Linked DNA regions of Homo sapiens. The protein of the gene in region 4 purifies or fractionates together with the protein of the main gene of each other region. This does not show direct contact. Each region holds a gene or a part of one and is shown on either strand. Other genes may lie near its edges.

Evidence for each region.
Region 1: the proteins of ABL2 (region 4) and BCAR3 purify together in Homo sapiens (affinity purification with mass spectrometry, with the first as the bait; one large-scale study listed by BioGRID). This does not show direct contact.
Region 2: the proteins of ABL2 (region 4) and PTPN18 purify together in Homo sapiens (pull-down; one study listed by IntAct). This does not show direct contact.
Region 3: the proteins of ABL2 (region 4) and CD84 purify together in Homo sapiens (pull-down; one study listed by IntAct). This does not show direct contact.
Region 5: the proteins of ABL2 (region 4) and CASS4 purify together in Homo sapiens (pull-down; one study listed by IntAct). This does not show direct contact.
Region 6: the proteins of ABL2 (region 4) and SCAI purify together in Homo sapiens (affinity purification with mass spectrometry, with the first as the bait; one large-scale study listed by BioGRID). This does not show direct contact.
Region 7: the proteins of ABL2 (region 4) and MPIG6B purify together in Homo sapiens (pull-down; one study listed by IntAct). This does not show direct contact.

The regions. Positions count from the first base shown.
Region 1 is NC_000001.11:93,584,338-93,587,837, forward strand, and holds part of BCAR3 (breast cancer anti-estrogen resistance protein 3), read right to left. Parts: intron 826-3,500; exon of another isoform or gene 635-825; intron 1-634. UniProt on the Homo sapiens protein: Acts as an adapter protein downstream of several growth factor receptors to promote cell proliferation, migration, and redistribution of actin fibers.
Region 2 is NC_000002.12:130,354,695-130,358,855, forward strand, and holds the start of PTPN18 (tyrosine-protein phosphatase non-receptor type 18), read left to right. Parts: upstream 1-1,361; 5' UTR 1,362-1,413; coding exon 1,414-1,506; intron 1,507-4,161. UniProt on the Homo sapiens protein: Differentially dephosphorylate autophosphorylated tyrosine kinases which are known to be overexpressed in tumor tissues.
Region 3 is NC_000001.11:160,544,997-160,548,496, forward strand, and holds part of CD84 (SLAM family member 5 isoform 2 precursor), read right to left. Parts: intron 3,326-3,500; coding exon 3,260-3,325; 3' UTR 1-3,259. UniProt on the Homo sapiens protein: Self-ligand receptor of the signaling lymphocytic activation molecule (SLAM) family.
Region 4 is NC_000001.11:179,111,178-179,114,677, reverse strand, and holds part of ABL2 (tyrosine-protein kinase ABL2), read left to right. Parts: intron 1-2,279; coding exon 2,280-2,369; intron 2,370-3,500. UniProt on the Homo sapiens protein: Non-receptor tyrosine-protein kinase that plays an ABL1-overlapping role in key processes linked to cell growth and survival such as cytoskeleton remodeling in response to extracellular stimuli, cell motility and adhesion and receptor endocytosis.
Region 5 is NC_000020.11:56,453,760-56,457,259, reverse strand, and holds part of CASS4 (cas scaffolding protein family member 4), read right to left. Parts: intron 1-3,500. UniProt on the Homo sapiens protein: Docking protein that plays a role in tyrosine kinase-based signaling related to cell adhesion and cell spreading. Regulates PTK2/FAK1 activity, focal adhesion integrity, and cell spreading.
Region 6 is NC_000009.12:125,140,729-125,144,809, forward strand, and holds the start of SCAI (protein SCAI), read right to left. Parts: upstream 2,801-4,081; 5' UTR 2,710-2,800; coding exon 2,657-2,709; intron 1,950-2,656; coding exon 1,905-1,949; intron 1-1,904. UniProt on the Homo sapiens protein: Tumor suppressor which functions to suppress MRTFA-induced SRF transcriptional activity. May function in the RHOA-DIAPH1 signal transduction pathway and regulate cell migration through transcriptional regulation of ITGB1.
Region 7 is NC_000006.12:31,721,902-31,726,172, forward strand, and holds the start of MPIG6B (megakaryocyte and platelet inhibitory receptor G6b isoform G6b-B precursor), read left to right. Parts: upstream 1-1,471; 5' UTR 1,472-1,482; coding exon 1,483-1,543; intron 1,544-1,737; coding exon 1,738-2,085; intron 2,086-2,240; coding exon 2,241-2,331; intron 2,332-2,685; coding exon 2,686-2,726; intron 2,727-2,844; coding exon of another isoform or gene 2,845-2,863; coding exon 2,864-2,943; coding exon of another isoform or gene 2,944-2,972; exon of another isoform or gene 2,973-3,068; coding exon 3,069-3,173; 3' UTR 3,174-4,271. UniProt on the Homo sapiens protein: Inhibitory receptor that acts as a critical regulator of hematopoietic lineage differentiation, megakaryocyte function and platelet production. Inhibits platelet aggregation and activation by agonists such as ADP and collagen-related peptide.

The DNA.
Region 1 (3,500 bases), about 86 Mb from region 4:
GTCCCCATGACCAATGCAGCAGCTGAGTCCTAGGATGCCTCCTCTGGGCTGTTCCATCCTGTTGAACAGAGTAGGGTAAAAGTTTTACGATACTCCCGGGAAAATCTGATGAACTGGAATGTGTACTTTTAACAGAGCCTAAAATTACTTACAGGCCCAGAGGGAATGGCTTGCCTAACTAACATGCATTTTCCACATGCTCCATAGTGTTGCAGTTAGGAAGGAAGCTGTGGGGAAACTTCCATTTTGGTGCAAATCTCAGCATCCCCCAAATAACCTGCAGGACTGCCTGGGGAGGCTGCCATCCCCAACCTCCTGGCTGCTCTCGGGGGACCCCCACACAGCCTCCTCCTGCTGAGCTGGGAAAAGGCACCGGCACGGTCACCAAGCAGCAGTTGGGAGGCACACTGTGTAACCACACAAGGAAAAGGTGGAAGGTAACTTTCAACACACTCGCTGTTATTCCTTCTGTCCCTTTCCAATTCAGACTGGGAATTTCTCCAGCACCAAGCACCAGAATCTCCCTAGCTAGAGACAGAGGCACTGCACCAGCCAAGTTGTTATGAACTTTAATTGGCCTTCCCATAAGCATAAAACATTGTTATGTTACAGAAATCACGAAGTTCTTTCCTACCTTTACAAGCACCAAAGAAAAAACAAATCAAAAAACCCCCAAACTCCAAGGAACAGAGAAATTCCAGCAACCTTTCGAAGATAAGACAAGACCGAGGGCAAATTACAAAAGGAAATATCTCCCGAGAAGTGATATTTAAGCAGTGACCACTGCGGCTGGACTCCAGGGGCCAGAACGGCAGGGTGTGGAATGCAACCTGCCTGTGAGCACACACCTTCGCCCAGGGCAGGCCACCAGCCAGCCAACTAGCAGGCCCGACGTCAGGGCAGGTGGCACCTGGCCAGAGCTGCATAAGGGAGCCACTGAAGGACACTGGGGCAGGGCAGCAGGCCATGAGCCATCTTTTCCCCTCCTCCCACTTAAACATTTCTGGGCGTGCTGCGTGTACAAAGTGGTGACAAGTTCTAGGAGGATCTGCATTCCAAAGGGCAAACAGAAAAGTGGCTCTATTAGGCCTGACTTGTTGACTTAAGAGACTTAGTCTTTTTTTCATTTCTTATCTTAAAAAGTTTTTAAACCAGGATCATTCAGGGCCAACTAGGAGGCCTTCCCTGCAGCAGTGGTTCTGTTATCCTGCCGAATACACTCCCACTCTGTGCATGACATTAATTCCCTGCTTCGACCATTCAGCAGCCTATCCTTCCCAAAGGAAACAGAAGAAAAGGTACCCCTTCTAACACTGTAAGGCATCTCAAGTCCAATCCTATTACTATGAAAAGGAGGATTTCTAAATATCAGGTCTTGCCTCCCTCCTTGCAATTGCCCTGAGTTTTTTTGTTTGTTTTGAGACAGGCTCTCGCTCTGTTGCCCAGGCTGGAGTGAAGTGGCATGGTCATGGCTCACTGCAGCTTCAACCTCCCAGGCTCAAGCAATCCTCCCACCTCAGCCTCTCGAGTAGCTGGGACCACAGGCACACACCACCATGCCCAGCTAATTTTTATATTTAAAAAATTTTGTGCATACATAGTAGGTGTATATATTTATGGGGTACATGAGATGTTTTGATACAGGCATGCAATGTGAAATAAGTGTATCATGGAGAATGGGGTATCCATGCCCTCTAGCATTTATCCTTTGAGTTACAAACAGTCCAATTACACTCTTTATTTTAAAATATATAATTGTTTTGACTACAGTCACCCTATTGTGTTATCAAATAAGTCTTATTCATTCTTTCTAAATTTTTTGTACCCATTAACCATCCCCACCTCCCTCCCATCCCCTACTCCCCACCCACTACTACCCTTCCCAGGCTCTGCTAACCATCCTTCTACTCTCTGTGTCCAAGAATTCAGTTGTTTTGACTTTTTGATCCCACAAATAAGTGAGAACATTTGTCTTTCTGTGTCTGGCTTATTTCACTTAACATAATGATCTCCAATTCCATCCACGTGGTTGCAAATAACAGGATCTCATTGTTTTTATGGCTGAATAGTACTCCACTGTGTATATACACATTTCCCTTATCTATTCAGCTGTTGATGGACACTTAGGCTGCTTCCAAATCTTAGCTATTGTAAACAGTGCTGCAACAAACATTGGTGCAGGTATCTCTTTGATATACTGATTTCCACTCTTCTGGGTATATACCCAGCAGTGGGATTGCTGGATCATATAGTAGCTCAATTTTTAGTTTTCTGAGGAACCTCGAAACTGTTCTCCATAGTGGTTGTACTAATTTACATTCCCCTCAACAGTGTAGGAGGGTTCCCTTTTCCCCACAATCCTCACCAGCATTTGTTATTACCTGTCTTTTGGATATAGGCCTTTTTAACTGGGGTAAGGTGATATCCATTATAGTTTTGATTTGCATTTCTCTGATGACCAATCATGTTGAACACCTTTTCATATGCCTGTTTGCCACTGCAGTGGCATGATCTCGGCTCACTGCCTCCTGGGTTCAAGCAATTCTCCTGCCTTAGCCTCCCTAGTAGCTGGGACTACAGGCGTGCACCACCACACCTGGTTAATTTTTGCATTTTTAGTAGAGATGGGGTTTTGCCATGTTGGCCAGGTTGGTCTTGAACTCCTGAACTCAGGTAATCCACCTGCCTCGGCCTCCCAAATTGTTGGGATTACAGGCGTGAGCCACCATGCCCAGCCCATTTGTATGTCTTCTTTTGAGAAATACTCATTTCTCAAAAGAGCAAATCTTTTGCCCATTTTAAAAATCAGATTATTAGAGTTTTTCCTATAGAGTTGTTTGAGCTCCTTATATTAATTTTCATATTTTTTGTAGAGACAGGGTTGTGCCATGTTGCCCAAGCTGGTCTTGAACTCTGAAGCTCAGGCAATCTGCCCACCTTAGCCTCCCAAAGTGCTGGGATTACAGCTGTGAGCCACTGTGCTGGGTCTGAGTCTGACATTCTACTCTCCTCCAGATAATAATTATCATGAGCACTTCCCTAGCACCTCCTCTGTGCCTGCACTGTTCTGAGCACTTTGCATATATTAAATCATGTACACCTCACAAGCTCCATCTTTCTAGATGAAGAAGGTGAGGCCCAGGAAGGTCAAGTCGCTTGCCCATGGTTGAAAAGTTGCCCAATGTGGAGCCGGCATTTGTGCCTGGCTACTGGGTCCCCAGCCAGATGCTGACTAGCATGTGCCGGAGCCTCCAGGCAGCACACAGCTGTCATTTACATTCCACACAGAGTCCTGTATTTTCCTCCCTAAGTTTTGCAGTATAGAAATGACAGTTTATGACATTTCCTCATGGACCCCCCCGCCAAAAAAAAAAACCAGTGAGTAGAATAAAATATGTTGGTTTACGTGCATAAGATTAGAAGCTGGGAGCCGGGTCAGGGCTGCTGTGTGACTGAGGGGCTGGACTGGATCTATGTCCCCGATGCCTGCCTTTTCCCTC
Region 2 (4,161 bases), on a different chromosome or scaffold from region 4:
CTGCGGACCCCACGATAAATCAAACAGCCCTAGCTGCTGATCCCCACAGAGCCACTTTGATCGCTCCATCACTTCAGCCAAGGTCAGCAAACGACAGCCTGTAGGCCACACACACACACTAGAATAATTCATGACACATGAACATTACATGAAATTCTGATTTCTTTGTCCATAAATGGTTTCTTTGGGACACAGCCACACTATATTGTCTGCTTTCATGCTGCCACAGCTGAGTTAAGCAGCTGGGGCAGCGATAGCAAAGCCAAAACCACTTCCTACCGGGACCTTTAAGAAAGTGTGCCCTTAAATACTCTGATAGCCCCTAGTGAATTAAATTGACCACCTGACATCATGCCCCTGTTGACCCTTCAGAGACTCAGGCACACATCCAGGCCCCAATGCTACCTTTCAACCCCTCAACGACCTCAAACTGGTGTCCACTGACGCCCCTTCCAGTGACACCCCTCTTAATTCTTCCGACCTCGGCGAGAAGGGGGCTAACCTAGGCCTGTCCTTGAAGAGACCCAGGTGCCAGTCCATTCTCTCCAGCCTCCCCTCGGTGATCCCGGAAGCTGGAACGGCGGCTCTCCTCTGACCTCTGCACACTTTCTGAAGATGGGAGTGTCAGGGCAGGCAAAAAAGAGAAGCTCTTCGTTCCCCAGAACCCACTTCCAGTGCCTCAGTTCTGTTTCCCAGCAGGCTTGTGCAGGTCGAGATGCTCACACAGGACTGACCCTGGTGCCCCAGCGCATCCGGGAAAAAGGAACCACAAATTCCTCGGGAAATACACAGAGAAGATCCCGCTGCCACTTGGCCTTTCCCACGGCGTGGCTGCCCCTCCCCGGCCTCCCTTGGGCCCGGCTGGAGCGCACAGCGCGGGACGCCCCCGACCCGGGGTCCTCTGGCACGAGGGGCAGCCTGATCTCGGCGACCGTCTCCACCCAAGGCTGCTGCCCGCCCCAGCTCGGACTCCGCGCGGCCTGGCTCCCAGGGGACGGGCGGGAGGGCCCGGCGAGACCGCTCGGCCGTCCACCCAGAGCCGGCACCCGGAGGTCGGCCCCTGGGCGCGGATCCCGATCTGAGGGCGGGTCCCAAGCGGCAGGGAGCGAACCTGGGACCGTGCCACCCCCCCACCAGTGGGCGCGGCAGCCGAAAAAAAGGGGAAGCGCCGGCGCTGGACTCTGCTCAGGGCAGCCCGCGAGGACCTAGGGCTCCGGCCACAGCGGCCCGAGCGCCCGGGGTGGGGCTACGCGGGCTCAGAACACGGTGGCTGGGGCGCCCTGCCCGCCGCTGCGCGCTTCCATTGGCTGCCGAGGCAAGGGCGGGGACTCAGTCACCGGCCTCCGCCTCCCGCGGCGTCCACACTCGCCGCGCGCGCGGCGGCCGGGCTGGACCTTGCTGGCCCGCGGCGCCATGAGCCGCAGCCTGGACTCGGCGCGGAGCTTCCTGGAGCGGCTGGAAGCGCGGGGCGGCCGGGAGGGGGCAGTCCTCGCCGGCGAGTTCAGCGTGAGTGGCACACGGGGTCCGCGAGCGGCGCGCCCCGGCCCTGGCCCTGCGTACGCCTGTCCTCCGCGCACGGCGGGCTCTGCCTTTCTGTCTCGGTGTCCCCGGTGTCTCCCCGCCTCGGGGGGTCTCTCCGTGTTTCTCTCCCCAGCACTTCTCTGTCGCTCTTGCTGTCTCCGTCTTCACTCTCTGCCCCCCGGCCCCGGAGCGCGACGTCCACGGCCAGGCCGGGACGGACCGTGCACACCCTCGTTCCCGGTGTCCTCGTCGCGCTCCCGGAACAACCTGGCTGCGGGCGGGACAGGTGGGGCGGGCGCCGCAGGGGAGGGCGGGCGGCCCTGCTGCGCTGGACAGCCCCGGCCCCGCCGCTTCTGGCGACCTGACTGTCCCCTGTGACCACAGGAAGGAAGGGGCTGCAGCAGGGCGAAGAGGAACACGGAGGCTGTGGCGTGGTGAGGGTGTGAACGCCGGGCTCGAATCCGCGTCCGGGCCCGAATCCGCTTCCCGTCCCGAATCCGCGTCCCGGCCATCCGCGTGTGGTCCAGGCGGTCTACCTGGCCCCTCTGACCTCGGCTTCTCCCTTGGTGAAATGGGGACATGAATGACCAAACTGGTCTAAGGATTAAATGATGTGGGTGAAAAGCACTTAGTACATATTGGGCGCACACTTCGTAGGGGCGTTCGTCACTGCCTATAAAGATTCTAAACGTGGGCCAGGTGCGGTGGCTCACACCTGTAATCCCAGCACTTTGGGAGGCCGAGGTGGGAGGATCGCTTGAGCTCAGGAGTTCGAGACCAGCCTGGGCAACACAGCGAAACCCCGTCTCTACTAAAAATACAAAAATCAACTGGGCATGGGCGCATGCCTGTAATCCCAGCTACTAGGGAGCAGAGACAGGGGACTCGCTTGAACCTGGGAGGCAGAGGTTGCAGTGAGCTGAGATGGTTCCACTGCACAGCTGAGATGGTGCCACTGCACTCCAGCCTGGGCCACAGAGTGAGATCCCATCTCAAACAAAACAAAACCAAACAAAAAATCTAAACGTTACAATACAGGTAGTGCAAGCCCAGCATTAGGAAGGCTCACGCAGAATGCTAGGCACTGTACATTACAGTTGATGACGTGTTTAAAGTGTAATCGCTTATGTACCAGACATAGAAACATACCATACAAACGCATAAACTGATATATGGTGACATGTATCAAGTTTAGAAATATGACAAATATATAAAAGTATTATAAATGACCGTTTATACAATAAACATTGCATAACTGCATAAAACAATACAACAAATGAATATAACAAAGATTATAATTTATAAAATGACCAAAGTTATTTGATAAATTCATAAGTAGATATAAAATATGTAACAGATGGCCGGGCACGGTGGCTCACGCCTATAATCCCAGCACTTTGGGAGGCCGAGGCGGGCGGATCACGAGGTCAGGAGATCCACACCATCCTGGCTAACACGGTGAAACCCCGTCTCTACTAAACACACAAAAAATTAGCTGGGCGTGGTGGCGGGCGCCTGTAGTCCCAGCTACTCGGGTGGCTGAGGCAGGAGAATGGCGTGAACCCGGGAGGCGGAGCTTGCAGTGAGCCGAGATCGCGCCACTGCAGTCCAGCCTGGGCAACAGAGCGAGACTCCATCTCAAAAAAAAAAAAAAAAAAAGTAACAGATAATTATAAACCTAAGTAATTTACACACATGTAGAAACATTGTATATAAGAAACTAAGAAATGCATAATAAATGTAAAATATATAATTATACAATATAAGAATGTGTGTAACAAATGTAAACATAATACCCATGTGATATATGACATCATGCGACTGGGTGGGTTCTGAACCGTGTACAGTGCGGAGGGCCTCACATGCGGAAGGCTGGGTGGCGAGGGCACCCCTGCTCCCCAAGCCTGCCTCCCGCATGTGCAGGAATCACTGCGCTCTTCTAGGTGTTCCCACTACACAAGGGCATCATGAGGGCTTAAATGACCCAATGGACACAAGTAAAGCACTTAGAATAGTGGCTGGCACACAGTGGTGGCATGGGTGTTACTTATTATCATTGAGATTACGAATACCTGACGATGATGGTAATACACGATTCACTAATTATTATTATAATCTCCCAGTAACACAGTGCCTATAGTATCTTGTACATAATATGTTATCCATTATAATGCCTATGCATTCATTGTACATTGTCTTATATGTTTAGCTACATAGCCCATAATATATTTCATTACAGTTATTGCTTACAAGACAATGTCACAGATTGAGTGTGCAGGGGGTGGGTGCCGAGAGGGTCTGAGTTCAACCCTCACCGTGTGACTTCCTGGTTGGGACCTTCCACAAGTCGCTGAACCACGTGGTGCATAAACTTTCCCGCCTGCACAATGGGGACGTCAATAATAGTACCCACGTCGTAGGAACCTGTGATGATTACATGCCCTTAGCACAGAGAGTGGCACAGAGAAGGTGCCCTGGGTCACTATTTCGGTATCATTATTATTAGGCAGGCCCAGTGCCATCAGGGTCTGCACTCACCTCCCCAGGCCACTGGCTTTGTATCCTGCAAGCGTGCCTAGGTGGCCTGGGACTCTGACCTGGCTCCTCTCCTGTCTTCTCCCCTCCCTGACCCACTCATAA
Region 3 (3,500 bases), about 19 Mb from region 4:
TGGAAAGTTGTGGAGGGGAAAATAAGATCACATGCATTTTACAGAAGGAAAATCTAAGAACTAAGACCTAGAGAGAAGGGTGAACAGATAACGTGTTCATGAATCAGGAGATTCATAGCAGAGAAACTGAGAGGAGAGACAAGAGTAGGGTGTCCTGAGTCCAAAGGCTACCTTCAGAATTCCTGGGCTCTGGCTTCATCCCAGGTTTGCTCTTCTGGAAGACCTAACAGATCTAACCTGCTTCTGATTTTTATTTTTGACAATATGCATAGGGGCATTAGGACACTAGTAATTTTACTTGAGTGAGCATATTAGGAAGAGGAAGAGGGCAAGTTAGAGAATAAAGATGTTTGGGAATGAGTCTTCAACGCATCCACAGAGTGAGGAGTGGTTTTATTTTAGGATAAACGCAGCCTGTTCAGTGTCACTTTGGAATTCCTCCATCCTTTATGACCAAGCCTCTTTCCTCCTTCCTGCACGTCTCTTCTTGGGGTGCTGTCTTTCACCTCCTTACAACTGGTTAGGTGCTTCAGCTGACCTCTTAGTTGGTCTGCCTAACTCTGAAAGTCTTCTCCCTCCAAAGTGCCTTTACACTAGGAACAGCCTCTGATGTATGCATCCTGATATTATTTTATTTTATTTTTATTTTTTGAGACATGGTCTCACTCTGTTGCCCAGCCTGGAGTGCAGTGGCAGGATCTCAGCTCACTGCAACCTCCACCTCCCAGGTTCAAGCAATTCTCCCACCTCAGCCTCCCAAGTAGCTGGGATTACAGGTGTGCACCACCACGCCCAGCTAATTTTTTTGTATTTTAAGTACAGATGGGGTTTTGCCATGCTGGCCAGGATCCTCTCAAATTCCTGACCTCAAGTGATCCGCCCACCTTGGCCTCCCAAAGTGCTGGGATTACAGGCGTGAGCCACCGTGCCCAGCTGCATCCTGATATTTAATGCTTGCCAGAATTTGATTGCACCATGCTTATTGGCTTCTATCTTTTTTTTTTTTTCGAGATGGAGTCTCACTCTGTCTCTCCCAGGCTGGAGTGCAGTGGTGTGATCTCAGCTCACTGCAACCTCCACTTCCTGGGTTCAAGCGATTCTCCTGTCTCAGCCTCCAGAGTAGCTGGGACTACAGATGTGTGCCACCACACCTGGCTAATTTCGTATTTTTAGTAGAGATGGGGTTTCACCATGTTGGCCAGACTAATCTCGAACTCCTGACCTCAGGTGATCCGCCTGCCTTGGCCTCCCAAAGTGTTGGGATTACAGGCGTGAGCCACCACCCCAGCCGGCTTCCGTTTATCTGTAATTCCCACATGTACAATGTAGTGAGGAAAACAAATAATTAGTTATGCTGTAAGGCTGAATGAGATGAGTTTTAGTGATAGAAGGACCAAAGAGGAAAAAACAGCAGTGTGAAAAGATCCCTGATTAATTTTGATTCCTGATACCAGGGAAAGCTTTACAGAAGAGGTACCTTTTGAGGTGGGCATTGAAGGACATGTAAATGGACATGGGGTGAGGGCACACATCTGGCTGGGACACTCTGCCACACATAGGCAAGGGACTGTGAGCATGCATGGTGCATCTGGAGAGGTGCTCTGAATACACCCCACTGATCCAGGCCCCTGCTCATTTTTCATGCTTCTCTCACTTGGAGGCCCTCTGTCTTCCTCATTCTCTATCCAAATTTCATCCATCCTTCAAGGCCCAGCTTCAGCCCTGCCCCCTCATAAGGTATTTTTCTGACTGTTCATGCTATTACTTGCAGCTGCAGTTCAGCGTTAACTGTAGTGTCTGTGCTGGAATTGTCTCCTGAGCTACACAAGAGCAGACATTATGCACATCTTCTACTTTGGGGCCTTGCAGCTCCTAACATAGTGCTAATGGTAGTTGGTGCTAGATGAGTCTATGGATTCATTTACTGGGACTGATGTCTTTATCTGCCTAATTGCAGCCCATTGCTGTCCAGCCTAGGACTATTCATTGGGATTTAGGAGTTAGCCGATTATACTTGCTAACACATAAGGGAAACACTTCCTTAAATGATCATATGAATGTCTTGCTCAGTTGTGAATGATTCTTCCTCATTGAGGAGAGTTAATGCCTGTGTAAGCTGGCTGGTGATCTGTTTGTGGGGCATGCCAGGGTGGCGGCACTCTGCCTCAGCTTAAACTCTAGTTCTCTGAGTCTTTGGAACTGGGATGAACCCAGTTTCATCATCTGCACCATCATCTCCCAAGTTCCTTCTGGAGAATGACTCTGCTTCTTGCAAGGTCTTCTATTTTGATGGTTGGATTATACCCAGTTCCCCAGAAGTGTGAGAAATATAAGCTGGTCAGTTCCTTTTGGAGAGTGGGAATACTGGGCATGGCTGCTTCTTCTGCTGAGGCTGCTTGGAGTGATACAGAAGGAAATCTTGGCCAGAAAGAAAATCCTATAAGGCTTCTGAAGTAGCACTCCAAGAAAAGTGTCCCAGCAGTCTCTAGACCCTGCAGAAAGAACATTTTCCAACACTCCATTTGGAGAGTGTGTCTACATGGCTGAGAGCCACAACTCTGACAGAGACCCACACAGCACTGTCATCTGTGTTTGGACTTACTAAGCCTGTTATGCCCTGCACAAAGATTCCCAGACAAAGGGATGAGTGTGCTTATATGCAGCCCACATTCTGCTCTCCAAGCCATGCACTCGGGGGAAGGGCTGCATCTGCCTCAAGCGAAGGGTACATTTTCCTAATTTGCTCAAGATGCGTGGTGAAGGCCACGCACCAGGGATCTTCACACATACTGACTGTGAGCAGAGCATCTTGGCTGGTGTGCCATGGCCTATTACAGGTGTGCAAAATATTGATCCCCTTCTCCCACAGTTACTGGGCAGGGTTGTTACCTCCAGTCACAAGAGGCCTCTAGTCATATGCAGCTTCCAGAAGTGAGCAATCTTGCTTGTTTATCCCAGTGTGCCATAAAAATATTATTTTCTACATGTGCTATGATGGGAAGAAGTTTGGGAAAACTATACTAGGTAACCTGCTTTGTCATTCATTCAGAAGGGAGTCATTTCAGGAAGGGTATGCATCCATTTGTCCATTTAGGCACAAGCTATGCCCAGCAGAAGGTTTCCTGCTTTGCTTACAGGCTGAGATGTGGCAGTTTGCAATCTCCCAGTAAGAGTTGGGCAGAGAAGATCTGGATCCAGGGAACCTGCCAGTATTGGTGGTTGTAACTCAGTTTCCAGAGGGAGAATTCAGCCCAGCAGCCTAGATCACAATTTCATAGCTTGAAGTCCCAGGAGGTTTACTGTCCTGTGTGCTGGCTTTCCCCATCTGTGCAGGAGAGAAGCGTGAGAAAATGTTAACTGAGAGGTGCTGCTGGGGAACTCCAGTCCTGCAAGTTCCCAGAGGAGTTAAGCAAATGGCACGGGGGAATGCCTTAGATTTGCCTCATGCTGGGGAAATCTGGGGTAGCAGGGCCTTGTTCTTTGCTGAGTCCCTCATGTCT
Region 4 (3,500 bases):
CCAAATATTGACCCAGTTTCTCAGAGACATTTGCATATTTAATAAGATAAGAAATTGAGTTTAGAGATTAAGGTGGGGAGGGCCGTTTTCAACTAGATAAAAATGATTGCTAAAGACTATGAAGAATGCATAAAAATAACCTCTGTGTAGATAAACAGAAGCATCCGATTGCTTGCAGATGAAAAAGTAGGAAAGTGAATAGTGGATTAAATTGCAGGGTTTTGTTTGTTTGTTTATTTGTGTTGTTGTTTTTCAAACACTCTTGCTTTGTTGCCCAGGCTGGAGTGCAGTGACGTGATTTCGGCTCAGTGACGTGATTTCGGCTCACTGAAACCTCTACCTCATGGGTTCAAGTGATTCTCATGCCTCAGCCCCTCAGTAGCTGGAACCACAGGCACGCACACCATGCCCAGCTAATTTTTTTTTTTTTGAGACGGACTCTCACTATGTTGCCCATGCTGGAGTGCAGTGGCACAATCTTTGCAACCTCCGTCCCCCAGGTTCAAGCGATTCTCCTGCCTCAGCCTCCCAAGTTGCTGGGATTACAGGCACCTGCCACCACGCCTGGCTAATTTTTGTATTTTTGGTAGAGATGGGGTTTTGGCATGTTGGCCAGGCTGGTCTTGAACTCCTAACCTCAAGTGATGCGCCCGCCTTAGCCTCCCAAAGTGCTGGGATTACAGGCATGAGCCACCACGCCCGGCCTAATTTTTGTATTTTTATTTATTTATTTATTTATTTTTTGAGACGGAGTCTCGCTCTGTCGCCCAGGCTGGAGTGCAGTGGCGCGATCTCGGCTCACTGCAAGCTCCACCTCTCGGGTTGATGCCATTCTCCTGCCTCAGCCTCCTGAGTAGCTGGGACTATAGGCGCCGGCCGCCACCACGCCCGGCTAATTTTTTTTGCATTTTTTAGTAGAGACGGGGTTTCACCGTGTTAGCCAGGATGGTCTCCATCTCCTGACCTCGTGATCCGCCTGCCTCGGCCTCCCAAAGTGCTGGGATTACAGGCTTGAGCCACAGCACCCGGCCTGTACTTTTAGTAGAGACAAGGTTTCACCATGTTGGCCAGGCTGGTCTCGAACTCCTGGTCTCAAGTGATCTGCCCGACTCAGTCTCCCAAAATGCTGGGATTACAGATGTGGGCCACCAGGCCTGGTCCTAATTGCAGTTGTGTTTGAACATAAGTCTGTGTTGTTTCCTCATTGAACATTGACGTTCTCTGTTGCACTTTGTCAAAAATGAACTCTGAGATCCTCCTTTTTGATATCCTTTTATATTTCTGAATGTATACAGTTGATTATATGGTTAGGCTGAGTTTGAAGACAGGTTTTACTTCTTTTATTTTCAAGTGGAAGAAAACTTGCCATTTTCTAAAACATCTCCTTGTTTCTCCTCATCCTTTTATTAGAGGGAATAGGAGCTGAGGCTAAATCGAAGCACCAGCCTTAGAAAGTGGGTTAATGGCCAGGTGCAGTGGCTCACACCTGTAATTCTAGCAGTTTGGGAGGCCGAAGTGAGCAGATTGCTTGAGCTCAGGAGTTCAAAAGCAACCTGAGCAATGTGGCAAAATCCCATCTACATAAAAAATACAGTAGCTTGAGATCGCTGTGTGTGCTCACTTTGGCTGGGTGCAGTGGCTCAAGCCTGTAATCCCAGCGCTTTGGGAGGCTGAGGCGGGTGGATCACCTGAGGTCAGGGGTTCGAGACCAGCATGGCCAACATGGCGAAACCCCTGTCTACTAAAAATACAAAAATTAGCCGGACGTGGTGGCGTGCGCCTGTAGCCCCAGCAAATCGTGAGGCTGAGGCTGGAGAATCACTTGAACCCAGGAGGCAGAGGTTGCAGTGAACCGAGATCGCGCCACTGCACTCCAGCCTGGGTGACAGAGTTAGATTCCGTCTCAAAAAAAAAAAAAAAATTAGCTGGGCGTGGTGTTGCACACCCATAGTCCCAGCTACTTGGGGAGCTGAGGCAGGAGGATTGTTTGAACCCAGGAGGTCAAGGCTGCAGTGAGTTGAGATCATGCCAGCTGCACTCCAGCCTGGGTGACAAAGCAAGACCCTGTCTCAAAGAAAAAGAAAAAAGGAATTTAGAAAGTGGGTTCATTATACCTCTGAGTCTAGAGCTGAGAAGTGGCTATGTTGCTATCATTGTGAACATGCTGTAACTGTACTTTAATAAGTGTGCATCATGATGCATAGAACTCATTATTAGATACACCACTGGATATTGAATTTCTGCAAGGAGTTTTTAATATTTTTTCTTCTGTTACATAGGCTGGAAGTGGAGCCCTGCCGATAGGCCCTCTTTTGCTGAAACACACCAAGCTTTTGAAACCATGTTCCATGACTCCAGCATTTCTGAAGGTGAGAATCTGTTGGATTTACTGTTGGTGACTAATTCTGGGTAGTGGTGGTGGTGGTGATAATGGTAATTACATTTCAAAAATGATCAACTTTTGTGGAGTTTGAGACTCTGTTTCAACTTTTAACTACAAGGACATTGCATCAGAGTATAGTTTATAATAGTGAGAAATTATGAACAACTTATATATCTAGTGGACTGTAAATTATTACAACCATATAGCTGAATATTTAAAATGATATTCATATATATACTTTTTTTTTTTTGAGATGGAGTCTCACTCTATCACCCAGGCTGGAGTGCAGTGGTGCGATGTCAGCTCACTGCAACCTCCACCTCCCAAGTTCAAGCAATTCTTGTGCCTCAGCCTCCTGAGTAGCTGGGATTGCAGGCACCTGCTACCACACCTGGCTAATTTTTGTTATTTTTAGTAGAGATGGGGTTTCGCCATGTTGGCCAGACTGCTCTCGAACTCTTAACCTTAAGTGATCCACCCACTTCAGCCTCCCAAAGTGCTGGGATTACATGTGTGAGCCACAGCGCCCGGCCTTCTTGGATATATTGACATGGAAAGTAGTTAAAGGTTAACTTTAACTTAGTAAACGAGGATATCCATATGTCCAATAACCATGTTTAACATTACTCATCATAGAGAAATACAAAATAAAACCACACTGAGATACCAATCCACAGCCTACCAAAAAGGCTAAAATTAAAATCAGGCTTGGCAGGCACAGCAGCTCACACCTGCAATCCCAGCACTTTGGGAGGCTGAGGTAGGTGGATCAGTTGGGGTCAGCAGTTGGAGACTAGCGTGGCCAACATGGTGAAACCCCGTCTCTACTAAAAATACAAAAACTAGCCAGGCGTGATGGCAGGCGCCTGTAATCCCAGCTACTTGGGAGGCTGAGGCAGGAGAATCACTTGAACCCGGGAGACGGAAGTTGCAGTGAGCTGAGATCGCACCTCTGCACTTTAGCCTGGGCAACAGAGCAAGACTCCCTGTCAAAAAAAAAAAAAAAAAAAAAAGACTGAGCACTGTGGTTCACACCTGTAATCCCAGCACTTTGGGAGGCTGAGGCGGGTGGATCACAAGTTCCGGAGTTCGAGACCAGCCTGGCCAACATGGTGAA
Region 5 (3,500 bases), on a different chromosome or scaffold from region 4:
CATTTACCTATTATCTCAAAATTCATAGCCCGGAAGCATTCAGACAGATAGGGCATAAAACTGATTTTTTCAGAAGGGGGTTATGTCTCCTAGTAGGGTTGGAGGGGAAGTTAGACAAGGAAGAGGAAGGCATACTTCGAAGAAGCACCTTCATTATTAGAATTGCATATTTGGAAAATGAAAACAATGATTGTCTTTGTCATAGAAAGTGAAGGAAAGATTGAAATGTCAGTTCACATGGACTCTTGGAAGCAGGGAGTATAAGAATGAAGCAGGTTGAGTGCAGTGACCCACACCTGTAATCCCAGCACTTTGGGAGGCCGAGGCAGGAGGATCGCTTAACCCTAGGAGTTTGAGACTAGCCTTGGCAACATACGAAACTCTGTCTCTACCAAAAACAAAACAAAACAAAAATTAGCCAGGTATGGCGGTGCGGGCCTGTAGTCCCAGCTACTTGGGAGGCTGAGGTGGGAGAATCGATTGAACCTGGGTGGTGGAGGCTGCAGTGAGCCATGATCTCACCACTGCACTCTAGCCTCAGCAACAGAGCAAAACACTGTCTCAAAAAAATAAAATAAAAAAGGGAGCTGGGCACGGTGACTCACACCTGTAATCCCAGCACTTTGGGAGGCTGAGGCAGGAGGGTCACTTGAGGTCAGGAATTTGAGATGTGCCTTGCCAACATGGTGACTCCCTGTCTCTGCCAAAAATACAAAAAATTAGCCGGGTGTGGTGGCAGGCGCCTGTAGTCCCAGCTACTCAGGAGGCTGAGGCAGGAGAATCGCCCGAACCTGTGAGGCGGAGATTGCAATGAGCTGAGATCACGCCACTGCACTCCCACCTGGGTGACAGAGCAAGACTTCGTCTCAAAAAAAAAAAGAAGAGTTTAGAAATAACGAGAAGTAATGAGGTAGGCATCAGATTATGAGCATCTTAAGTGAAAATATTAACCGTAGGGAGGTGAAAAATGTACTAAGATTCTTAACATGGGGTGCTGGAAATGTGTGGAGATAGTTTTGGTTATCGCATTGACTAGGGACTTCTATAGGCAGTGAGCGGGCAGGGGTTCTGGGATGCTGAACGGTTCACCACGCAATGGAGAACTGTCCACCCGGTGGCCAACGGTGCCCCGGGCCTCCACTGAGAAGTGCTGTCAGTCTAAAGCGGGGGCTTTCCAAGTGAGGTCCTTGGACCAGAAGCATCAACGTCACCTGCAAACTTGCTAGAAATGCACATTATTATGCTGCACCCCAGACCTACTAGATCAAAAATTCTGAGAGCGGGGCCCAGCCATGCAAGTTTGTTTGTTTTTGTTTGTTTGTTTTCTTGAGACAGAGTCTTGTTCTTGTTGCCCAGGCTGGAGTGCAGTGGTGCGATCTCAGCTCACCGCAACCTCTGCTTTCCGGGTTCAAGCAATTCTCCTGCCTCAGCCTCCCGAGTAGCTGGGATTACAGGTGCCCGCTATCATGCCCAGCTAATTTTTTGTATTTTTAGTAGAAACGGGGTTTCACCATGTTGGTCAGGCTGGTCTCAAACTCCTGACCTCAGGCGATCCACCCGCCTCGGCCTCCCAAAGTGCTGGGATTACAGGCGTGAGCCACCATGCCCGGCCAGCCATGTGAGTTTTAACAAAGATCATAGGTGATTGTGATACACTCAAATGTGAGAACCACTAGTCTAAGGCCTACTTAATGTTGAACAAAATAGCATAACTGTCAGCAATATGGCAGGCCCAAAGACTAGTGTTTGGGGTTCAGGGAGCTGAGCATCAGGAGGCCTGAATTCTTGTCCTAGTTTGCCTCTGAGAAGGTACATGACCTTATCCTATCATTGGACATCCTTTTCTTCCACCCTCTACCCCATCTGCCCTATAACCTAGGTAAGTTTCCCAAGCTCAGTTATTCAGAGACAACCTTTACAACCTTTACAAGTTATACTCTTTCCACCTTCCTCTTAACTTCTACTGGCTTCATTCCTTTCCTTTAAATGGACCCATTGTTTTTACTTACATTAATTTAAAGGAAACTGTGAAAAATGGTAAATGGAAAACTACTGTCATTGACCACAAATAGAAGGAAACCAATAAAAATAAGCACAACGATAACATCTTTGACTTTTTTTTTTTTAAAAAAGGAAGAACATCAAGTGTAAAAGAGGTGTTGAAGATATACAAGCCCCAAATCAAGATTTGCTGTTGTAATCAGAAACATTAAATCAGAATGTCAAAGAGGAACGGAGTCAGTCCTATTTAGCCCTGTCAGTACCACCCACAACAACCTTGCAGAGCCCCTACAGTCATTTCAGTAATGGTTAATGCTTCACTTTCATTCCCTGGGGTTCGTTCATTAGACTCAGTGATCTCCAGGACTCTCTTGCTAAAATAAAGGACAAAGAATCACAAAAACGAACTCTCGCCCATGTGGGTCATGGCTGTAATGTTGAGCTATCCGTAGCATGATGAGACGAATCTAGCAATAGAGCGTATGAATCAGAAGCTTTAGAGAGTGAGTGCTATAGCTTACCATGGTTCCTAAGTCTTTGTTTTCATCTAACCTTTATTCCAAGATAGGTTTATCTTTCTCTTCTAAGTTAGGCAATGTCTGAAAAATAAAATCCCTTCAACTTACCAAATTGAGTGGTGTTTTACACTACAGTGGAACTGTTTAAGTTCACTTTAGACTTGAGCATTCTTTCTCATATTTTCTGTTGATGGTTCTGCCTACTGATTCCTTTTCTCAACCAAAGGAGACTTTGGCCACCCAAAGGCTGAATTTTGCCTATCAACATGGCCTGATATAATGACCCACATGGTTTGTTTAAAGTTATATATATGTGTATGTAAATTTTAAACATCCAAATTTCTAGAACATGTTAAAGCTCCTACACCACCAGGCATTTCAGCAGAACACAAAGGTCGGGGCTGAAAGTAGCAAATTATCTCCTTGACACAGCCCCCAAGTGACTTCTGGGCCTCTTAAGGCTCACAATCCCTGAACTGAAGCATCTCGCTCTATAATGTCTGAACTCATCCAGAAAAGTATTTCTTTCTGTCTTTTGTTTTTTTGTTGTTGTTGTTCTTGAGACAGAGTCTTGCTCTGTGGTCCAGGATGGAGTGCAGTGATGCAATCTCAGCTCACTGCAACCTCTGCCTCCTGGGTTCAAGTGATTCTCCTGCCTCAGCCTCCTGAGTAGCTGGAATTACAGGCGCACACCACCATGCCCAGCTAATTTTTGTATTTTTAGTAGAGATGGGGTTTCATCATGTTGGCCAGGCTGGTCTCAAACTCCTGACTTCAAGTGATCTGCTCGCCTTGGCCTCCCAAAGTGCTGGGTTTACAGGAGTGAGCCACTATATCCCAACTCTTTTTTTTCTTTTCTTTTTTTTAGAGATTAGCTCTTGCTCTGTCACCAAGGCTGGAGTGCAGTGGCACCATCATAGCTCTCTGCAACCCCAAACTCCTGGTCTCAAGGGATACCCCCACTCAGACTCCCAAGTGCAT
Region 6 (4,081 bases), on a different chromosome or scaffold from region 4:
GGCGCTTGTAGTCCCAGCTACTCCAGAGGCTGAATTGGCTGGGTGGCTTGAGCCCAGGAGGTGGAGGTTGCAGTATGCTGAGATTGCACCACTGCACTACAGCCTGGATGACAGAGCCAGACCCTGTCTCAAAAAAAAAAAAAAGTATTTACTCCAATATACCTAAAATATTGTCTCACTATGTCATCAATATAAAAAGTTACTGAGAAATTTTATTTATTCAATTTTTGTACTAACTTGAAATCTAGCATGTATTTTATACTTATCTCATTTCAGACCCTAAATTCTCATTGGAAATATTTGATATATACTTAGATTTCATAAAATGACGGATGAAAAATACAGACTCACATACCCAAGTTGTTCAAAACATACTTGAACGTTTTCCAATAGCTGATCAAGTAGCAGTTTCTCAAGTTAATTTAATTACAATTAAATAAAATTAAAAATTTAGTTCCTCAGTCATGCTAGATGCATTTTGAGTGCTCACCCTGCATATGGTTACTGGATTGGACAGTACAGGCCTAAAGTGTGACAAGGAAACTCTGTTGGCACTTCCACCATCAGCATTTCGTGTCTATTTACTATTGAGGTTTTCTGTGTATTAACATCATTAACTTGCCAGATATTAACTATGAAAGTAGTCCTACTGGTCACATAACTACAGTAGCTTACTTTCTCTAGGTCAATGCCAACATCTGTGAAAAAGGAATCATCTAATGACTACACAGAATTGCTATGTAGTACCTCTCACATGGAATGCAGTCAAAAATGTTTATGTGATAAATATATCTTCATCTCCATTACTCAAGGACTAATTCACTTTGTTTGTGGACTACTTAAACTCTTTGCTTCTATTTTCCTAAGGTTCAACCATTCGAGTTAACTACACAGTGTCCAACGACAAAAGATAAAGCAATAAGAAAACCTACTTTCAATTGCATATTTATTAGCAGCATTATGGTATAACAGTTAAGAGCTTAAGCTCTGGAGTCAGACTGTCTGGATTCAAATCCTGGTTTTATCTTTTACTAGATGCATGATTTTGGGTAAATATTTGGCCTCTCTGTGTCGCAGTTCCCTCTTCTGTAAAATAGTGACACTACATATTCTCTTAGGGTTCTTTGAGGATTACAGGAGAAGATACACATAGAGCATTCGTACACAGTACTTGGCACATAGTAGATGCTCAATAAAATTAGTTTATTTTTTGAGGCAGGGTCTTGCTGTGTTCCCCACACTGGAGTGCAGTGGCATGATCACGGCTCACTGCATCACTGCAGCCTTGACTTCCTGGGCTCAAGCAATCCTCCCACCTCAGCCTCTTGAGAAGCTGGGACTACAGGTCCACAACACCCGCTCAGCTAGTTGGTTTTTGTTTTTTTAATTTTTTGTTTTTGTGGGTACATAGTAGGTGTATATATTTATGGGACCGGCTAGTTTTTCAATTTTTTGTAGAGACGGAGTCTTGCTCTGTTGCCCAGACTGGTCTTGAACTCCCAGGCTCAAATGATCCTCCTGCCTCAGCCTCCCAAAGAGCTGGGATTGAAGGCATGAGCCACCCCAGCCAAGATGAGCTTTTTAAACAGAGATGCTGGAGAAAATGAAATTATGGCTAAGGTTAAAAAAAAAAATAGCTGAGATCCTTACACAACATCAAAAAGTAAAAAAGTAGGATTTCTCAAGATTTCCCACATTATCTTAGATACCAAGAAAAAAAAAATCGACTGTAGAGGTAGTAATTTGAAGTCCTCAAAAGAAAAATCATGCATGTGGTTATATTCTTTTAAAAGGGGGATAAATAAGAAACTTCATCTACTGACAGTATACAATTATGCAGTACGGCACAGGTGCAGCCAAGCAAAAAGAAAAACATGAAGCAAAATAGGAAGGCACTGCCTTACCTGCTTCTCCGTTTTCGAGGCGGTTTCTCCACTGTGCCAGTCAGTCTGCAGACCAAACAAATAAGACGGTAACTAAAAGTAACATACAAGAAAACATCTCCCGGCGCTACCGTGCCAGTCAAGAACTAAATAGACCACCCTCTGGGACCACAGGCTCGCCAAGCCCAGATCTGACCTTACAAACGCCTCATGCCCTGTTTCCCCTATTTACCAAGACCTAGCATTCCTGGGACTCACCGTTCCCCCAATTCCCCCTGAGCTCAAACCTTCCTGGTCCCTCACCCCATCCTCGACCCCTGCTCGTCACAGCCCAGCTCCCCAAAATCACCCACCTCCACCTACTCATTGTCTGCCTCGTCACCCCCGCAAGCCCCCCTAGCCTCCCCTTTCCTGTGCCCACCCGTTCCCGACCGTGCACTGCCCCCTCCACGCCCCGCCTCTCCGGGCCCGGCGACCCCCGCATTCCACGGCCCCTCCGGGGGCGCGCCCGCCTTGCCCCTCCCGGCCCCGCGCCGCCAGCCTCACCCCTCGGCGCCCCTTCCCTCACACGCCCCTCTCACCTGGCCTCGAGGAGGCGATCGCGCCCAGCCCGCGCCGCCGCCTGCAGGCGCCCCCAAGGTCCCCCCAGCCTGCACCCCCCGCCCCTCCGGTCTCTGCGCCCCGAATGCTCCACCGCCCCGAGCCGCTGCCCCTGGGCCCGCTCCCTGGCCCCCACCCCATCCCCAACCCCGGCCTCCACCCAGCCCCCGCACCTGGGGGCCAGGCGACTCCGCGGCTGCTGGGGCTGCCGGGCTCCTCTGACCATCCGGCTCCTGCTCCGCCGCGGGAGCTGCTCCGGCGGCCGCAGGGCTCGCTCGGGAAGCTGAGGCGGCGGAGGCTGGAGTAGGCGGAGAGGCGGGAGGAGGGCCTCGCGCCTCTGCCAGGCTTGCCGCGGGGCCCGCCTCCTCCGCGCCTCTCCTCGGCTCCCATTGGCTAGAGCAGTAGTGTGGACGGAAATCTGTCAGTCGATTGGACGCTCGGCCCGTCACATCCCGCGCTGCCCACCCAGAGGTTTGGTTGAGACTGCAGGTGGCGGCGGAGGTGCCTTAGAGATTGCTAGCAGGGCCGGAGGAGACCCTAGCGCCACCATGCGTCTAAAAGTAGGAACTGCACCCCCGGCTCCAGACACCTGCCCCAGGTTCTCCTGGCTCTGCGTCCTGCATACCACACACCTGCTGGCGCCCCTCCACCTCTGCACCACGCCAGGACCGAAAACAAGCCCTGAAATCTCCCAATTTCTTCTAGCAGGTGAGACAGTGAGGCAACTCTCACAAACGTGTTTCCTTTTAAGCCACCTCGAATGCGATCCTTGTCCCTACATCTTGCTGAAATTGTCTCACAGCTCACAGCTACCCCTCAAAAAGGACCCAGCCAGAAAACTCTAAGAATCCACCAAAATAAAGCATGGTTTGGATGCTCAATCCTCTGCAGAAAAGCTCACTAGCTTGGGTGCAGGCTTTTAAGAAAGTAAGATTTTTTTTTAATTACCATGAAAGAAAAATCAGCACTACAAACAGAACCAATGCCATACTAAAAGCAACGTGTTCCATTTTGAAAGGCCTGGACAAATTTGATCCCTGAATGGAAGCTGACCATCCTGATTGTGTGACCATTGCAAGTTCTACACCAATTAATCAATTTTAAAATAAATTGTACTGTATTTTTTGACAAACAGGCATGCAAAACTGCCTTTCATAAGCATAGTTACCCTTCTTCTGCTTTAACAAAGCCATCCTTGAAAATAAGACTCAGCTCATTAACGTATTATAAAATTCTTGAAGGTGGGAAGGCCTCTCTAAATCTCTACTCCTGTGTGAACTTGTTTGGTATATTCTCAGCATCTGTTCAGAGTTGGGAGGAGGCATAAAACTTTCTCTTAAGTCACTTCCATTTTATTAGAACATCTTTTATGCCTCAATAATATGACAGCGTCGAGTAGTACATGTCAACATTGGGGTGGGGAAAATCTCTCATTGATCTCCATAAGCGGCAAAAATTAGGATACTAGTTTTTCACAAAACCAAATGTATTTGGTGTAAAGAGTTGTCTTTTCTTCTGAGATGGTCCTACCTACATCTTTAATGGTAAAATGACTTTCCATTTATGAAGTAATACTGACGGTAAATTGTAGTAGGAAT
Region 7 (4,271 bases), on a different chromosome or scaffold from region 4:
GAGAGAGGGATGGGGGAAGGCAGGTGCCACTAGTGGCCAATGCCATTGTGGTTCTTGGTTTCAGGCCAAGATGCCCTTCCTGGTCCCCAGCTAAGAGTCCTGCTGCTCAGTCCTCTGAATGAGCATCATCAAAGGCCTCTGTGATTTACAGTGTCCATGGTGGCAGCTTCTGCTGGTTCCTGGAAAATGGACAAAAGGATGTGGCCCAAATTAATTGCTGAATTTGGGTCCCTGGGTCCCTGCTGGGCATTGATAGGGGCATGCTGGTGGAAATTGGGGGAGGAATGGGTCAAATTAATCTCCATTCAGCCCCCACTCGGTCTTTCCAATGCCTGCTCAGCAATAAGTGACTCACTGATGGCTTCTGTGATGCCACAGCAGCAGAGGCAGGGGCTGGGGCTACTCATCCAGGAGAGCCACCACAGGTCTGCTAAGTAGGGCTGCCTCAGGCTCCCATGAAGGTTCTCAGGATGTCACCCGTGCTCCACTTGCGCTTGGTGTGGCCTTGTTGCTCCAGTCCAGCAGCAGCAATTGTCCTAGGTGTGGCTGTGTGCACCTGCTCCAAAGCACCTCCCCAGTCAAAACCTGCCAACTTGGGCAGGGTACCAAGCCAGGAGGAACAGCATGGGCACAGAGAGGTGAGGTAGAAGCTAAAATAAGAATAGAAATAGTAGGCCGGGTGTGGTGGCTCACACCTGTAATCTCAGCACTTTGGGAGGCCGAGGTGGGTGGATCACAAGGTCAAGAGATCGAGACCATCCTGGCCAACATGGTGAAACCCCATCTCTACTGAAAATACAAAAATTAGTCAGGTGTGGTGGCATGCACCTGTAGTTCCAGCTACTCAGGAGGCTGAGACAGGAGACTCACTTGAATCCAGGAGCCGGAGGCTGCAGTGAGTCGAGATTGCACTCCAGCCTGGCCACAGAGCAAGACTCTGACTCAAAAAAAAAAAAAAAAAAAAGAATAGAAATAGTAATAATAATGGCAAGCACTTACATAGTGATCCTATGTATTCTAAGCAGTTTACATGTATTACTTTATTTCGTTATCACAATCCCCTACAAAACAGGAGTTTTTTTTGTTGTTGTTTTTGAGACAGGGTCTGGCTGGCTCTGTCGCCCAGGCTGGAGTGCAATGGCCTGATCACAGTTCACTGCAACCTCGACCTCCTGAGCTCAAGCGATCCTCCCTCCTCAGCCTCCTAAGTAGCTGGGATTACAGGCGCACCTGAAAAGTTAAGCAGGCCAAAGCATTTGTGTAAATGGCCCGAGCACACATTTTAAGTGAGAACCATTTGAAGACTCCGAGTTTGCCTGCGAGGATTCCCAAAGGGATCTGGGCAGCTGGTGGCCCCGCCCCCTCTCTTATCGGAGCCCCCCAGCCCCTCCGTTCTCCCCACGCCTAACTTCCCTCCGGTCCCCCCCCAACCGGCCCCACGCCGCTGATTCGCTCGCAGCTTCTCCTCACCACATCCTAACCATGGCTGTGTTTCTGCAGCTGCTACCGCTGCTGCTCTCGAGGGCCCAAGGGAACCCTGGGGGTAAGCGATCCCTGGGAGAGTTGTGATAGACGCAGAGGGGCTGAAGCAAGATAAGGGCCGCCTAGTAGGGTGGGTTGTGTGTGGGAAGATCCAGGATGGCTGGAGTGCAGAACAGAGAAGAGAAAGAGGAGACGGGATGGAGGGTCGTCTTGCCCTGTGGACGTGCCCTAACCACAGCCTCCGGCCTCTCCTAGCTTCTCTGGACGGCCGCCCTGGGGACCGGGTGAATCTCTCCTGCGGAGGAGTCTCTCATCCCATCCGCTGGGTCTGGGCACCCAGCTTCCCGGCCTGCAAGGGCCTGTCCAAAGGACGCCGACCGATCCTGTGGGCCTCTTCGAGCGGGACCCCCACCGTGCCTCCCCTCCAGCCTTTCGTCGGCCGCCTACGCTCCCTGGACTCTGGTATCCGGCGGCTGGAGCTCCTCTTGAGCGCGGGGGACTCGGGCACTTTTTTCTGCAAGGGCCGCCACGAGGACGAGAGCCGTACAGTGCTTCACGTGCTGGGGGACAGGACCTATTGCAAGGCCCCCGGGCCTACCCATGGTAGGTGCAGGCCTGTGCGCACAAGGGTACTTAACTCCGACACATACCCGGAGGAGGGAAGAGGGCCTTGGCTGGGGGTTCTTGAGCGGGACTGCTGGCTGTCCCTCGTCAAACCCCTGACCTCAGCATCCCTCCCCGCCACGCCTTTCCCCCAGGGTCCGTGTATCCCCAGCTCCTGATCCCGCTGCTGGGCGCTGGGTTGGTGCTCGGACTGGGAGCTTTGGGCCTGGTCTGGTGGCTGCACAGGTGAGCAGGAGGGACCCGGCCTCGTTAAATGGGGAGTGACCAGAGGTGGAAGGGGCAGGACCAGAACCTTCGCAAAAGAAAGAGCTAGACCTAGAGCTCTGGTCCTGGCTTGGCGAAGAATGGGAGAGGTCAAAGGTGGGAGCGAGGCCGCTGACTGGTGAGTAGAGCCCCACCAGAGCAGATGAGCTGGAAGTGCAGCAGAGTTAGAGCCTGGGCTGGACTGTCGGTGGGGTAGAGTCTAAGTTGTTTCCGGTCTGAGCCTTCAAGTTGCTGGGCTGTCCTTGGCGTGGCGAGTCCCAGGAGAACCAGTGAGACAAGACTGGTGGTTCTCAAAGACTCATATGTCCCTTACAGGCGCCTGCCCCCGCAACCGATTCGACCACTCCCTAGATTTGGTGAGACTAATTCCACCCCATTTTCTTTCTCCTACATGCCCACTCCCCACCCCTCAATTCCTGAGTCTGAGCCCTTGCTGGGAGCAGACACGTTGGTCACCTTCTCTCCATCCTTCAGCTCTGTCCCCCCCACATAGCTCCACTTGTGAAAACCGAGCCCCAGAGGCCAGTAAAGGAGGAAGAGCCCAAGATTCCAGGGGACCTGGACCAGGAACCGGTAAGGGCATGGGGATGGGAAGGGGATAGCCAGAATCTCTGAGGAAAATGGACCAAAAAAAAAAAGGCCTGAACCCCAAGGAAGACTGTGGAGACCATCTTGTCTTCCTCCCCTTCCTCCTCCAGAGCCTGCTCTATGCGGATCTGGACCATCTAGCCCTCAGCAGGCCCCGCCGGCTGTCCACAGCGGACCCTGCTGATGCCTCCACCATCTATGCAGTTGTAGTTTGAAGGGAAGCCCTTACTCCAAACCTCCCAAGCTAGGGGATCCCAGCTCCCCATAATCCCTCTCCCCTCCTTGGTTCCTCACCTGGAAGAGGAAGGCACCATGGTATAGAAATAAGTGCTAGACTGGGAGTTGGGAGACCTGGGTTCCAGGCTGTCTCTGCCACTGGTCTTACTTCTAAACTTACTCCCATCTCTCCTATAACCTCCATGTCTCCCTCACCACCAGTGTCCTCTCTATACCCAATCAAGCCCTAGCTCCTTTTTTTTTTTTTTTTGAGACGGAGTCTCGCTCTGTTGCCCAGGCTGGAGTGCAGTGACACCATCTCCCTCACTGCAAGCTCCGCCTGCCGGGTTCACACCATTCTCCTGCCTCAGGCTCCTGAGTAGCTGGGACTACAGGCGCCCGCCACCACGCCCAGCTAATTTTTTGTATTTTTAGTAGAGACGGGGTTTCACTGTGTTAGCCAGGATGGTCTTGATCTGCTAACCTCGTGATCCACCCGCCCCGGCCTCCCAAAGTGCTAGGATTACAGGTGTGAGCCACCGCGCCCGGCCTGATTCTTTAAGCTGTTTTTCTTTGTTGCTGGTGTTTTCTTTTTGGACTCCTCTTCCTTGCTCCATATCCCTACAGTATTTCCCACCATTCTAGGTTTGTCCCTTTCTCTTCTTCTGGGACACTCTCATCAACAGTCAGTCCTCAGCCCCCTCCTCTGCAAATGACACTCAGAACTCTCTCTGGCTCAGATCTCAGATTTGGGATTAACAAACTTCCACTTAGACATTCTGCCTGACTGACCTCAGGCATTTCGCACTCTGAATGTCAAACCCAACTCATTGTCATCTCTGAAGCTGCTCACTTAATTCTCCTCTGTATTCTCTTTAACAACCCAGTTGCCCAACCCAGAAACTGGGAGTCACGCAGACCTCCTTTCTCTCTTACTCCCACACAATGAGCCATGAAGTCCAGTCTTTCTATCTTAACATCACTGTCAAACCCACACTGTATTCCATGCCCAGCGCTGCCACGTGAATGTACTCTGCTCACTTCCTTCCTGGATTACCCATAGCCCCACCTCATCCTCCTACCCTTGCTTTCCTCCC